Homo sapiens: one gene and its partners. The protein of the gene in region 1 interacts with the protein of each later gene in a pairwise test. Each region holds a gene or a part of one and is shown in the gene's direction. Other genes may lie near its edges.

Region 1 (3,500 bases):
GGAGTTGGGGGTGGATAACTGCATTTGGAGACATGGTGGGTGTGACAGTTATGTGCTTGAGAGGAGATGCACCAGTGGTGCCTGGAAACTCACGGTTGGAGTTTGAGTGCACGGGGGCAGGTGTGGATTTGACAGTCATTGCCATTGAGTCTTCAAGGGCAGTGGTGAGACACACACTGTGAAGTAGGGAATTTAGAGCAATATTAAAATTAACAAGTTATTAAAAATTATGTAAGATCACATATACTCATGGAAAAGAATTTGCCCTGACAAGGGAATCAAATGAAAAGTAGAAAAGTCTCCCAACTCTCACCTTGGTAATGCTAGGTTGTTTCTTGCTAAGTCAGTGCTTTGTTTCTTGCTATTCCTTCTAAAAAACTGTGAGTCAACCTTAAGTATACAGCTTAGGGAATTTTTACACATTTATTCACTTATGTGACCACTGTCCATATTGAAATATAAAGCATTTCTGGTACTTTGGTCAGCTCAGATCACCATAATAAAATATCAAAATATCTGTTGTTCTGGCTTAAACAGAAATTTATTTCCTCACAGTTTTGGAGGCTGGAAGTCCGAGATCAGGATGCCAGCATAGTTGGGTTCTGGTGAGGGCCCTCTTCCTCGCTGCTCAGTGTGTAGTCAAGACCTTTCTTTGATGTGTATGTGTGGGGAGAGGTAGGTGGAGGAAAGCAAGCTTTCTGGTGTGTCTAAGGGCACTTATCCCATCCTGAAGACCCCACCCACGTCACCTCATCTGAGTCTAATTACTTCCCAAAGACCCCATCTCCAAATAGCATCACATTGTGGGGTAGGGCTTCAACACAGGAATTCTGAGAGAATACAGTTCAGTCCTTAGTACCCGAAAAGCTCTGCTGTGCTTTCTCCCAATCAGCACTCCCCCTACACTCCCAAGGATAACCAGTATTCTGATCTTTAGTCCCATAGATTCATTTTTTCTGTTTTTAAGATCCATATAAATGGAGTCATACGGTGCTTTTTTTTTTTTCTTTTTGTATCTGGCTTCTTCAGCTCATTGTGATGTCTGTGAAATTCATCCATGTTCTGTGTAGTCTGTAGTTTCTTTTCCATTGCTGTGTGTGGTATACCAAGGTATGAATATACTGCCATAAAAAGCCCAAGTGGGATAATTCTGTAAATGCAATGGTTTTAAAATTATAATGGTAGGGACCCAGACTTTTGTTAGAATCCGCACACCTTCTGCCTCCCAAGTTGTGACAACCAAAAATGTCTCTAGCTATTGCTGAATGTCCCCTGTGGGGCAAAGTTGAGTAGCATTGGTTTAGAGAGAAGAGCCAGAGCCAGAGCCAAAGCCACAGGCCCTTTGGGGCCGACTTGGTGATCTGCCCCTGTTTATGCTAGTTGTAAGACAGAACTAGTATCATTCCTAAGGTTCTCTGTAGAGATAATTTCCATCACCACTAAAATGGGGCTGTTTCCCAGGAAGCATCAAGTAAGTTTAAAGACCGAATTAAAACATCTCACATTTGTAAATTCTTTAAGGTGAGCAGGCCCTTAGAGATCACCTGAGCAACCCCCTCATCCAGAGACGATCCAGCCCCAGGGTCAGAGGGCTGGCGTGGGATGGAGCCAAGCTGTAGTCCACAGCACTTTCTTCCCAGCTGGGCCTTCTGCTGGACAGCCAAGAGTTTATCAGAAAGTTACTATGTGGATAATTTATTTTTCTTTGTGATGCCAGGTTATTACTTCTCTTTGCTCATTGAAGAGGAAATAATACAAGTGATATTTTATGTATCAGGAAAGCTGATACTACCCATTCCTTATTGCAAACATTGAGTCACTGAGGGCAGTACTGCTACTAAATCACCCAAGTCTTTTTCTTCTGTCTAGGTTAATTTATTTTAGGTCTTTGTTTTCTCCAGAACTCTACCTTTTGAATAATGATAAGGTCTCTTTTACTTAGTCTCACAGGGCTGTAAAGAACTTTCCAACAATTTTTTTTTCCCTCTCCTCTCTCTTCCAGAGGCATCTGAAACAATGATGTCTGTCAAGATTTAATTTTTTTGGGGTTGTTGTTGTAATTGACAGCTGACAGATAATAGTAAAAAGTGGAATGATATTGTCATCTAGCTAGTTTATGTATTCAAAAGAGAGGAGAACAGAATCAGTATTAAACTTTTGATACCTTGGGTGGAGGTTTTTCTCATCAATCTTGGATGAGAAAAGAAAGAATCATTCACAAGAATGTTGAACACCATTCTTGTGTTTTACTCCTGTCATAGTCTGATTAATAAGGTTTGAGGGCAGAGTTTCTGCTTAAAATTAAATGCTAAATTTCTTTTTTTTTTTTTTTTGCACCGCCCTTAATCCATTTAATCCTGAGTGGACAACACAGCACATGTTTCAGAGAGCACAGGGTTGGGGGTAAGGTCACAGATCAACAGGATCCCAAGGCAGAGGAATTTTTCTTAGTGCAGAACAAAATGAAAAGTCTCCCATGTCTACTTCTTTCTACACAGACACGGCAACCATCCGATTTCTCAATCTTTTCCCCACCTTTCCCGCCTTTCTATTCCACAAAGCCGCCATTGTCATCCTGGCCCGTTCTCAATGAGCTGTTGGGCACACCTCCCAGACGGGGTGGTGGCCGGGCAGAGGGGCTCCTCACTTCCCAGTAGGGGCGGCCGGGCAGAGGCGCCCCTCACCTCCCGGACGGGGCGGCTGGCCGGGCAGGGGGGCTGACCCCCCCCACCTCCCTCCCGGACGGGGCGGCTGGCCGGGCGGGGGGCTGACCCCCCAACCTCCCTCCCGGACGGGGCGGCTGGCCGGGCAGAGGGGCTCCTCACTTCCCAGTAGGGGCGGCCGGGCAGAGGCACCCCTCACCTCCCGGACGGGGCGGCTGGCCGGGCGGGGGGGCTGACCCCCCCCCACCTCCCTCCCGGACGGGGCGGCTGGCCGGGCGGGGGGCTGACCCCCCCACCTCCCTCCCGGATGGGGCGGCTGGCCGGGCGGGGGGCCGACATCCCCACCTCCCTCCCGGACGGGGCGGCTGGCCGGGCGGAGGGCTGACCCCCCCACCTCCCTCCCGGACGGGGCGGCTGGCCGGGCGGGGGGCCGACCCCCCCACCTCCCTCCCGGACGGGGCGGCTGGCCGGGCAGAGGGGCTCCTCACTTCCCAGTAGGGGCGGCCGGGCAGAGGCGCCCCTCACCTCCCAGACGGGGCGGCTGGCCGGGCGGAGGGCTCACCCCCCGACCTCCCTCCCGGACGGGGCGGCTGGCCAGGCGGGGGGCTGACCCCCCCACCTCCCTCCCGGACGGGGCGGCTGGCCGGGCGGGGGGCCGACCCCCCCCACCTCCCTCCCGGACGGGGCGGCTGGCCGGGCAGAGGGGCTCCTCACTTCCCAGTAGGGGCGGCGGGGCAGAGGCGCCCCTCACCTCCCAGACGGGGCGGCTGGCCGGGCGGAGGGCTCACCCCCCCACCTCCCTCCCGGACGGGGCGGCTGGCCAGGCGGGGGGCTGAC
Region 2 (3,587 bases), on another chromosome or scaffold:
CCATCAGCAGCTGACCTACTGTGTCCCCATGGCTCCTGGGTCGGGGTCACAGATGCACTGCATCTTTGGAGGCGGAGCTGGCAGAGCAGGGGCGAGTCACTTCTAGTTTCTGCCTGGGTTCTTACACCCTCCCCTGTGGGTGCTTTTAAGCCTGTTTGTCAGGTCCCCAGCCATCAAATGGCAGACTTTGGACTACCAGATTGACTTGGGTGGGGGTGAGGAGGGTTCCAGTGTCTCCCCGTGCTGAGGAGAGGCCCGCTGGGTGAGTTGACAGGTTGGGGCTGGCAGCCAGGGGCCCCTTTGTTCTTCACTTCCCCGGCAGTTGCACGTCTTATCCTCTCTCCATCTCCAACAGAAAGACAACGTGGAGATGATCAAGGCCCTCATCGTGTTCGGAGCAGAAGTGGACACCCCGAATGACTTTGGGGAGACTCCTACATTCCTAGCCTCCAAAATCGGCAGACGTATGTGCTCTGCACTCTGGGGCTGGAGTGGGGTGAGGGTTGGGTGGATACAGGGACCGAGGAGGAGGGAAGTCCCAGGCATCAGGTGCCAGCATCCTGTGCTGACCCGCCCTGCTCAGAGCTGCCAGGAGCACCTCGTACTCAGAGAGGGGGCTTCCTTACCCAAGCACAAGGGCCCTGAGCAGTAGATGCAGGCCCACCACGGGGCTTGCTATACCAGCATCCTCTCCCGTGCAGCGCCCCCCACCTCAGGGAGCTAAGATTCCCAGCAGGGGTGGGGACAGGAGAGCCAGCAGCAGCCTTCTTTCCCCACCGTTGGGGAATTCACTGATGGAACCACTGGCTAGAATGACCAAGGGTGCATGCACTACACTGCACGAGCTCTGGGCATGCCTGTGTGGGCAGAGTGCATGGCCATGTGCTGCACGCTCGCACAGTGAGCCTTAGCTTCAGAGCTGGACAGAGCAGATCCTCCTCACCAGAGGCCTGGAGCCCGCTCTGGAGGGTTTCAGCAGCTGTGGGGGTCACTGTGGGCAGGTACCTGATGGCAGCAGTGTGTGTGTGCCAGTGCACACGTGTGTGTCTGCATGCACCGCATCTATGACCTCCTTTTCAGCAATCCCATCCATCAAATGGAGTAGGTGCCCCCTGGCTGGCTCATTAGTCCCTTTGGAACCCTGAACTATCACTTAGCATTTTTGAGAATCACTGAATGTGGCCATGGGATTCCTGCTTTCTTGGCTGGAGTAGAAGGAAAGAAGGGGTTCCCACAGGCATCGGGCAGGGTGACACTGACCTCCTCCTCCCATATCCTCCTTCCCTGGCCTTAGGAAGCTGCTTGGGATGTACCAGCCTGGGGGCAGCACTCCCTGTCAGGGTGGGCTGAGGCCTCTGGAGCAGCCCACGTGCCCAGGGCCTGGGAGCTGGGACAGGGGACGGAGTGTGGAAAGGAGGGGCCTCTCCTTTGCATGTTGACATCATTTCTGATCCTGTGCCATCTCCCCTTCCCCAAACCATGACAAGTTGTCACCAGGAAGGCGATCTTGACTCTGCTGAGAACCGTGGGGGCCGAATACTGCTTCCCACCCATCCACGGGGTCCCCGCGGAGCAGGGCTCTGCAGCGCCACATCATCCCTTCTCCCTGGAAAGAGCTCAGCCCCCACCGATCAGCCTAAACAACCTAGGTAGGCCTCGCCTCCCGACTCCCTCTTCTCCAGCTGGTTCCCAGGCCCCTGGATCACAGCAGGCCCCACCAAAGCAACAGGATCCCTAGGACGGAAGTCACTAAAGGAAGCCGGGGAGGATGGGGCCGGAGTTGTCAGCCTCTAGGCAGCCAGCAACCCACAGATCCCAGAGGCCTAGGGTGTCCCTGGCTGATGTCCCATGCTCCGTTGCCCCTGAGAGGATGTGTCCTGCACACAGTCTCAGGCCTGGGCATTTCCAGTGGCACCCATGAGGTGGCTGCTGTTACTGCCCTCCTGTCCCCAGGGCGTTCAGGGTGGGCAGTGAGGAGTGCTGTCGGGGGACTGGGGGCCCGGGCCCTCTGGCTTCACCTGTCCCTCTGGCTTCACCTCTATCACACTGTTTGAATCTCGGTTGGGCCTGAGACCTGTGTGCCCCCTTCCTGGCCCCGTGGTGACTTTCAGACGTTGAATGTGGCCAGGCAGCCAGCATCTGCCCCGGTGCATTCCTTGGTGCCCAGGGAGACATCCCCAGACTAGACAGGACCCTTCTCTGGACTTTCTGTGGGCTGGCCCACTCAGGGACCTCCATTGTTTGGGAGCGGGGTCCCCTGAACAGAGGGCAGCCAGGAGCCAGTCCTTGGTGAGCCAGACTTCACTGTGGAGGCGGCAGCACCTTCAGCCAGGGTAGCCCGACCAAGCCTGGAACTCTGGAGAGGCACCGTGACTGTGGCTTCTAGTCCTGGCTCCACCTCTCTCTCCCCTCCCAGGAACTCCCCCTCCACCTCCCATCTTTATCTCTCAATTTTGCAGGCAGTCACCCAAGCCAGGCCGGATGGTGGGCCTGGGGTGCGGCGTCAGATGGGTAACGCCCTGGGCCTGGAGAGGCCACCGAGCCTAGCCATGCGGCATTAGCTCTAGCTCTCACTCCCTAATCCGTCCTTCTTAGCTGCGCACACACCACACGCCCCCTCCCCTGCACCCTGTCCCCGGCCTCTCTCAGCCACTCTTCTGCTTCCCTTGTTCACTGTGGAGCCGTGTGCCCTGGGGAGGGGGAGACACCGCTTCGCAGCCCTCGGTTCTGCTTTGCTGCTTCTAGACTCTGCACAGTGGTGGGGGGCTGTCAGAGTTGGGGTCACGCGGGCTGCTGCACCAGGCACCTGGGGACTGGGCTGCTTGTCAGGAGGGGCAGCTAGTCAGTTGGGTGGACGTCAGGCAGGCCTTGGACACAAAGGAAGACATGGACAGAGTGGATGGTGGGCCTGATCCCGGAGGCCACTGGGATTTCCAGACCTGGGATCAGGACGAGGGATGTCTCCTTTCATCCATGGACTTAAACCCCGAGGAACGTCCTGACTCAGCCTTTTGACTAAATGACCTTGGGTGAATTATGGACCCTCTTAGAGCCTCACCTGTCAATAGGGAATAAGAATTCTTAGGCCCCAGGTGGTTATTGCAGCATCGGCTCCGATGCAAGAAGAAGCACTTTGTCTGAAGAGGACACGCAAGGGTATTCATGCCTTGGGGTTTCAAGAGGAAGAGATTGAGGGGAACCTGGGAGCTGGCTGGGCAGGGTGGGGAGCCCTTCCCAGAGCAGTGGGCCCCCCTTTCCACTCCAGCCCATTTCTCTCCTGTGGCCTGTGGCTCAGCTTTCTCCTGGGACAGAGTCCTTCCTGTGGGGAAGGGACAGATGACAGGGGGAGTGGGGGGATGAGGGCGTGGCCGTGGGCGAGGCACAGCCCAGGTTTGATCTAGGGACCTCTGGGGTAGCAGGGCTTGGGGACCCACCTGACCACAGCATGCCCTGCTCTGTGCCTCACAGAACTACAGGATCTCATGCACATCTCACGGGCCCGGAAGCCAGCGTTCATCCTGGGCTCCATGAGGGACGAGAAGCGGACGTAAGTGGATCGAGATCGGGGGCAGAGCGGGGAACGTGTG
Region 3 (4,314 bases), on another chromosome or scaffold:
GAGGGGAGTAATCAATTGTTTTACTTCTTTAAAAGTAAACATGATTTATTTTATAGAAAGAGAGGCGCTCAGTCAGGCCCAAAGAACTTGTTGGCAATTGGCTGCTTTATAAAAACTGTGTGGATTTTGCAGGACAGACCTGGGTTTTTATCTTAACTCATTAGCTGTGTGGCAAGTCACTGAATCGCTGTCAACCTCAGTTGAAAATTCAGGGGTCATAATGCCTACAAGGAAGGACGCTGGTGAGGATTAACTAAAGTGATAGAGGTGAATACCTGCCCATAGTAGGTCACTTGGGAAAACTTTGGGAATTGCAGCAAAGGAGGAAGGGAGAAAGACCTCCTGTGGAGTGTCCCTCACAGACCTCAAGGTGTGGACACGTGGAGCTGGGAAGGAATCCAAGCCACTTGAGGTCTTCGGAGAGCACCTGGGACAGAAATCGTCTGCTGAGTCCCTTCTCTAATACTTGGTGCTATTTTGATCACAGACCCTCCAAGTTCAGGGTATAGTTCAGTGGCAGCACCACTCAGCCAGCAAGGTGTGCTGCTTACAAGCACGTGTTAGGGAGGGCAAGCAGGCCGTTTTAGAGCAGGGGAAAGTTCTGAGGTTTCTTACACCCAGAGATACTGCCATCCTGTGTAAACTGCCGGTGTAAACTGCCATTCCAGAGGAAGGGACAGACTGGACCCTGAAAAGGAGAAGCAGAAAAAAAAAAAACAGAAGGAAGCCACAGGTATCCTTCTGTGGCCTTCTCCTTGTGAAGATTTCCGATGACTTCAGCAAGTTTCCGCCTCCTTGAGATCTAATCTGAATCTGTCCCTGCCTATGCTGTAATCATAGCAATTGTTTGAGCTTCTATAGCATCTTGCCTTGGTAGAGTTTCAGAATGCTCTGATTGTGGGGAACTGGCCAATTCTCCCTGCATCATTGGTTTAAAACCGTAACATGCCCATCTCCTTACTGGGAAAACCAACTGCTTCCAAATGCTGTTAATGGCCGAATGGAGGGGTAGGGTGCAGATTTAAATGTCTGAGCTCTCCCCGTGGGTAGCAGTTCCTGCTCCATCCCTGCCTGGAGACTAGGAAGAAGGAAGAATGATAAGGAACTGGCATGGGCATTAGTCACATTTCTGCCAAGCAACCTTTCTTTCTTGGTGTGCCCTGAGCCCTGCTGGCAGTGCCAGGCCCTCTCCACTGCCCACCAAGGAGCTCGTGTGTGTTCACGTGTCCACGTGAGCCCCACATCAACATACTCACACAGATAGCAACACGCAGGGCTGTGCTCCGGTGAGGGGGTGAGTGAGGGGCCGGCTTCGACTCCCCTTGGAGTCAAGCCTTCCAAGCAGGAAAGTCTCCTTCCGTCGCTCAGGAGAGTGGAGCCAATGCGTGCCTTGGAGGACTGCTCTGAGCCCTGTGCAGATTGGTGCTGATGATTCTTACCAGTTGTGTGCAAGAAAAGAAATCAGAGACGCTGCCTGCCTGCTCCCATCTCTCGCGCGCTCTCTCTCTCTTCTGCTCTCTCCCTCCCTTTGCAAACATTGGATTTAAACCTGCTCAGAATTCAGCACAGAGGAAGGCAGCAGCGGTAGCAGCAGCAGAAGCAGTAGCAAGCCCGGCAGCTGAGAGCACCGCAGCGTCGAGATGTACCATCCTGCCTACTGGGTCGTCTTCTCGGCGACAACTGCCCTGCTCTTCATCCCAGGTACCGTACAGGGGAAGGGTGTTTTCTCTCCCTGGGGTGATTGTACGACGTGAGAGCAGGAGAGGCAGTGGGGAGATGGAGAGGCAAGGAGGAAGGGGTGAGGACAGGGAGTGTGAGATGCATGTGAGTGAAAGAGGTAGGCTTGCTGTGTGCACGCACACACACACTCACTCGCTCACACGCGCGCAGATGCTTTCAGCACGGGATTTGCTCTCTGTTCCGGGGGATCCAGTGAGCTGGGTTCGAGATCTGCACCATGCTGTGAGGCACTGCTGTTTCAGTGAAAGTCACCAACTGGCATTAACCAGCTGTGGTCCTGGGGGTAGGAGAAGAGGGGTTTGAACTCCCAGCCATAAATCCTTCTTGCTGCCTATGTTGGGACCTGCAGGGTGGAAGGGGCACCCTCTTATCTCTCTCAGTCGTGGTGGTCTCTCTCTGTTTCTGAATCAGTCCAGATCTCTGCGCCTCCCTGTCTCTCTCTCTGTTTCTTTTCTCTCTCTCTCTCTCTCTCTCTCTCTCCCTCTCCACCTCTCCCCACTCTCCTCCTCCCTCCCTTCCTTCGGAACTGCTCTCCCCTACCCTCTCCCCCTGGAGCTCCTTCCCTGCCCCATCCCTCCTTCTCAGCTCACTCATCTGCTCCTGCATTTCTTGTTGTAACACAGGCCCTCTACTGCCTGCCGTCCTTTCTTTATCCTTCCACCAAATGGGCAGATTATGCCCTTGAAATTCGGAATCCTCTCAGTATCTCCTTCCTGTTCCTTACGTCAGGAATATGAATTTCCCTTGGCAGAATTTGGGATGTCCCTGCTGAGGGAAGGTTGGAAATTTGGATTTGCCTGATTCTCCCCAGCCCCTTCCCCACCTTGTCTAATGATTTAAATGTGATCCCACCTCTCACAGCAGTTATTTGTTTGGGGAAAACAAATCTGCAGTGACACAGGTAAGATGCTGCAATCCTACCAAAATGAGCTTAGCAGAAGCGTTGCAAAATTGAAGGCATCTTAATAGATTTGATAATTGCACAGGAGTCCTTTGCAAGCAGACAACTGAATGCCTGCAGGCATCTTTCAAACAATGCCGAAGGGGCTAGGTTATGCTTGCCAAGGTTTTAGGCAGCAGCAAAAGTGTCGGTTTTCATACCAAACCGTCGCACAGTCAGGATCTCTTTTTTTCCCCCAAATTGAGATAAATGCATTGTGTTAAACATTAGCTTAAACCTAAATTTTCATACATATATACACAGACAGGAATGCTAAGATTTTAAAACCTTACCTGCCTTTTTATAGGTAAAACATACAGTTTTATGTTTCTATATTCAGTATTACTTGGTAGGGTTTTGTGGGAATATTTTCAGTGTTGTTTTTAATAATATAATTCCCTGAGTAGTCCTAAGATGCCAAAGTGAAATCAGAAAAATGGAAGTTTACTGGGGAGAAAGAAGAGAGGATCAACTAAAACAAGTAATCCAGCCTGTAATGTTTTGTAACACCTTGTGAAGATGGCACTTTTTAAAGCAGGGATGGGCTCTGCATAACCATGTTCCCAGCTGTTTGTTTTAGGCTGACCAAGAAGTTCAGAGTGGGGGTTGCTGTTGTTGTTATTCCAGATTCCAGCAGCATCCTAGGGGGTCCAGCCTGGGGGCTGTGCTCAGCAGGGAAGGCAGAGCCAACGGAACACTCAGTACCTGCCTGAGCCTGGTAGAGGGAGCTAGGTGGGTGCACTGGGTCCGTGGCAGGAGAAGACAAACTTTCCTGCGTAGGCAAGTCCCCAGCTGGATGGCAGCTCCGGGGGGCCTCCTCATACCCGCTTCCCCTCCTCTCACTGTGCTGGAGCAAAGATCAGGACCCCCATCCCAAGGGAATCCTGGCTGTATGGATGCGCCCCTTATGGCAGAAATCATAACATTACACTTTAGAAAGCAAGGCGGGGGGTGAGCCCCAGTCTGCAGAAGCTGCATTGCAGCGCGCCCTGAAGGAGCCAGGAGCCAGGGTGAGACCTCCTTCTAGGGGTCCCGTGGCACTGCACTGGTGGGGAGCAGGCAGAACTTGCTTGCAGGAGAAGTACCCGAAACTAAAGCCGGCTGAGGGAAAGGAGGATGAACCTGCACCCCTGCCTGACCGTCCTGAGCATGGTGGATGAACGACAATGACAAGCTATCCCCCCCACCCCCCTGCCCCCATCTTCTGGGGGAGAGCAGGGTGTGGACATCACTGCAACATGCCCTCTTTCTGAAGAGTCTGTTACCTGCTTTGAGGGCTACTCTTATGCTAATTGTGTCAGGAGCCCGGTAAGAACAAGAACGGGGAGGAGAAAAAGTTAGCCTTAGAAGGTGTCGGTGAAAGAACGCTTCGCATCTTGAGGGGTTCCTGTGGGAAACCTGGCTGGATCCGGAAGTTCTGATGAGCTGCCATGGCTTACTTGCGACTTCTCCTTTCTCTTTTCTTTTACTTCCTGTTATAGCTTTAGACTTTTTTTTCTTTGTTTCAAATGATGATGCTTTTTCTCCCACAGGGATTAATACCAGCTCGTTAGCCACTTACTTTCACTGCGTCTAAAAACCAAAGGCTGATGTAATAATGGAACCTTGACCTGGTTAGGCCTCAATGCCATTTT
Region 4 (3,587 bases), on another chromosome or scaffold:
AATTTAAACAGTTGGAATTAATTGCTGTTATTCAAATGGGCATTTGGTCGTACTGCTTCTTTCTCTCGCCTTCAAACTGGAATACCCTATCTTTTATATCCTCATAAAAATTCTATCCTTCCTTCAAGGCCCATCTCATGTCACATCCTGATTCATCTGTTAGTGCTCTGATTTGAATTCCTGTAGTATTTTGTATCTTAATTATAGCACTCAGTATCTCATCTTGTATGCTTATCGTATTCTAGATAGCTATTTCAGATGAGGGCGGCAAACACTGTGTGTAGGGGCAATCAAATATTTGTCAAATTGTCAGGACCTTTCTTGTGTTGCCTTAACTACACTATTGTTAGCTATAATTTGGGGTTGATGAATTTTAAAACAAACCCTGAATGAAATTTGTGTCCTGCCAAACCTTTAGGATATACCTGCTTATGGCTTTTGGATGTACAATTTAAGCCAAAACAGGATGGGTTACATTGGTGAAGTTTACTTTTTGCTTCTGAAATAACATCTAGAATGTTAGTTTGTAGAATAAACATTTTCTAAGAATTTTTTTACATTTTTTACCTGTAAATGCAACTCTTTTTACAATTCTTCATTTCCTTTGGAAGGAGTCCAAAACTACTTACCTGGAAGACCTTCCACCACCCCCTGAGTATGAATTGGCCCCGTCCAAGTTAGAAGAGGAAGTGGATGATGTCTTTCTCATTCGAGCTCAAGGACTGCCCTGGTCATGCACTATGGAAGATGTGCTTAACTTTTTTTCAGGTATATTTTATGTATGTTTTATTTATTTATTTTTTTTCCTTATATTGTTTCTCACAAGCAGGTATGTATGTTTTAAGTATGTAATTTTGTCTGAGTAAAAGGTAGTGCTACAAATCCATGTCAGACTACGCTGTCACCTTCCTTTTTGATGGTTGGGAACTGTCTCATTCTGGTTGGTTGCATATACCAAATGATACCATGTGTGCTGTTTGCGGTATGTAACGAATTGAAAGACTTTGGGCCAGGGGCAGTGGCTCAGGCCTGTAATCAGCAGTTTGGGAGGCCAAGGTGGAAGGATGGCTTGAGGCCAGTAGTTCCATACCACACTGGGCAACACTGTGAGACTGTCTCAATTTACATATGTATAAAGACTTTGAATGCAACAAAAGTATTTTAACGTTAAGACTGCATAGTATGGGCCAGGCGCAGTGGCTCACGCCTGTAATCCCAGCACTTTGGGAGGCCGAGGCGGGCGGATCACAAGCTCAGGAGATCGAGACCATCCTGGCTAACATAGTGAAACCCCGTCTCTACTAAAAATACAAAAATTACCCAGGCTTGTAGTCCCAGCTACTTGGGAGGCTGAGGCAGGAGAATGGTGTGAATCCGGGAGGTGGAGCTTGCAGTGAGCCGAGATGGTGCCACTGCATTCCAGCCTGGGCGACAGAGTGAGACTCTGTCTCAAAAAAAAAAAAAAATCCATCATACTATGTAGGTTTTTTTTTTTTTGAGACGGAGTCTCGCTCTGTCGCCAGGCTGGAGTGCAGTGGCATGATCTCAGCTCACTGCAAGCTCCGCCTCCCGGGTTCACACCATTCTCCTGCCTCAGCCTCCCTAGTAGCGACTGCCACCACACCCAGTTAATTTTTTGTATTTTTAGTAGAGCTGGGGTTTCACCGTGTTAGCCAGGATGATCTCAATCTCCTGACCTTGTGATCTGCCTGCCTCGGCTTCCCACAGTGCTGGGATTACAGGCGTGAGCCACCGTGCCCGGCTGGTATGATGGAATACTACGTAGCCATAACAAAGAGTGAGATTATGTGCTTTGCAGCAATGTGGGTGGTGCTGGAGACCATTATCCTAAGCAAACTAACATGGAACATTAAACTTAATACTGTATGTTTTCACTTACAAGTGGGAGCTAAACAATGAGAACACATGGACACAAAGAGGGGAACAAGAAGACACCAGGGCCAACTTGAGGGTTGGGGAGAAGATTAAAAAATACCTATCGGGTCCAAGTGCGGTGGCTCACGCCTGTAATCCCAGCACTTTGGGAGGCCGAGGCGGGCGGATCACGAGGTCAGGAGATCGAGACCATCCTGGCTAACATGTTGAAACCCCATCTCTCCTAAAAATACAAAAAAAATTAGCCGGGCGTGGTGGCACGCTCCCGTAGTCCCAGCTACCTGGGAGGCTGAGGCAGGAGAATCGCTTGAATCTGGGAGGCGGAGGTTGCAGTGAGCTGAGTTCACACCACTGTACTCCAGCCGTGGTGACAGAGAGAGACTCTGTCTCAAAAAGAAAAATAAAACCTATTGGGTACTGTGCTTGCTACCTGGGTAACTAAATTATCTGTATACCGAACTCCCATAACACATGGTTTACCTATGTAGCAGTCCTATACATGTACTAAATAAAAGTTGAAAAACAAAATTACATGGTTTGAAATTATTTTTCTCTGTGGTATTAATATATACATATCAAAAAGTCAAGCCTGTCAGTGGAAATATGGAATTAAGGGTGACTCTTTATGTAATACAGACATTTACAATAGAAGGTCACTTAGTATCAAGGAATAAAGTTCCCTTAATAACATGTTTGGAGGGTTTACATATCTGTGGGATTTTTTTTTTTAGTTTCTGTATCTGACTATGATTTATTTTTATTAATTTTTTTGAGATGGAGTCTTGCTCTGTCACCCAGGCTGGAGTGCAGTAGCGCAATCTCGGCTCATTGCAACCTCCACCTCCCGGGTTCAAGGGATTCTCCTGCCTCAGCCTCCTGAGTTGGTGGGACAGCAGGCACCTATCACCATGCCCGGCTAATTTTTGTATTTTTAGTAGAGACAGGGTTTTGCCGTGTTGGCCAGGTTGGTCTCAAACTCCTGACCTCAGGTGATCCACCACCTTGGCCTCCCAAAGGGCTGGGATTACAGGCATGAACCACCATGCCTGGCTATTTCATTAATTTTTTTAGCTGCTCCTTGTGGAGCAGGAGTAAATCCTAGGCAGTATGCCCAGAGTGAGCCTGGTCAAACTTTTTTTTAAAGCCACTTGGCCACTTACATCTTGGACTACTCCCATTATAAAAAGTATGCAGTATGAAAAGGGGAAAAAGGCTGGGTGTGGTGGCTGATGCCTGTAATCCCAGCACTTTGGGAGACTAAGGTGGGAGGATTACTTAAGCCCAAGAGTTCAAGACCAGCCTGTGCAACAAAATGAGACCGCCTCTCTACAAAAACAAAAAGTTAAACTATGGTAATAAAATTACTCATACAGGAAATATTTTAGAGACCTATGGAGATGATTTTAAAGGAAGACACTTATGTATAAATTTAACTATATTGTATTTCCTTAAGTGATTGTAGAAACATTGCAATAGAAATAATGAATTTTGTGTTGGGCCTATCCTGATTTGCTATTTAATGATCAGGAAGGAGATCATAAGCTTCTGTGCTAAGGTTTGCTTATCTTTTCTACTTGGAAGGTTTTAGAGACTAAATCCTTATTGGTGTTTGGATGACTTCAGTGATGGGGATTTGTGTAAGGAATATGACACTTGTTTCCTGCTTTGTTGTTGGAAAACTGCATTCTTGT

What was found.
Region 2: the proteins of NUP93 (region 1) and PLA2G6 interact in binary tests that used the Homo sapiens proteins (3 or more experiments, as listed by UniProt).
Region 3: the proteins of NUP93 (region 1) and OPCML interact in binary tests that used the Homo sapiens proteins (3 or more experiments, as listed by UniProt).
Region 4: the proteins of NUP93 (region 1) and GRSF1 interact in a two-hybrid assay, tested with the Homo sapiens proteins (one study listed by BioGRID).

The regions. Positions count from the first base shown.
Region 1 is NC_000016.10:56,736,629-56,740,128, forward strand, and holds part of NUP93 (nuclear pore complex protein Nup93), read left to right. Parts: intron 1-3,500. UniProt on the Homo sapiens protein: Plays a role in the nuclear pore complex (NPC) assembly and/or maintenance. May anchor nucleoporins, but not NUP153 and TPR, to the NPC. During renal development, regulates podocyte migration and proliferation through SMAD4 signaling.
Region 2 is NC_000022.11:38,126,331-38,129,917, reverse strand, and holds part of PLA2G6 (85/88 kDa calcium-independent phospholipase A2), read left to right. Parts: intron 1-355; coding exon 356-464; intron 465-1,487; coding exon 1,488-1,649; intron 1,650-3,468; coding exon 3,469-3,547; intron 3,548-3,587. UniProt on the Homo sapiens protein: Calcium-independent phospholipase involved in phospholipid remodeling with implications in cellular membrane homeostasis, mitochondrial integrity and signal transduction.
Region 3 is NC_000011.10:133,529,651-133,533,964, reverse strand, and holds the start of OPCML (opioid-binding protein/cell adhesion molecule isoform b precursor), read left to right. Parts: upstream 1-1,463; 5' UTR 1,464-1,640; coding exon 1,641-1,701; intron 1,702-4,314. UniProt on the Homo sapiens protein: Binds opioids in the presence of acidic lipids; probably involved in cell contact.
Region 4 is NC_000004.12:70,833,339-70,836,925, reverse strand, and holds part of GRSF1 (G-rich sequence factor 1), read left to right. Parts: intron 1-611; coding exon 612-768; intron 769-3,587. UniProt on the Homo sapiens protein: Regulator of post-transcriptional mitochondrial gene expression, required for assembly of the mitochondrial ribosome and for recruitment of mRNA and lncRNA. Binds RNAs containing the 14 base G-rich element.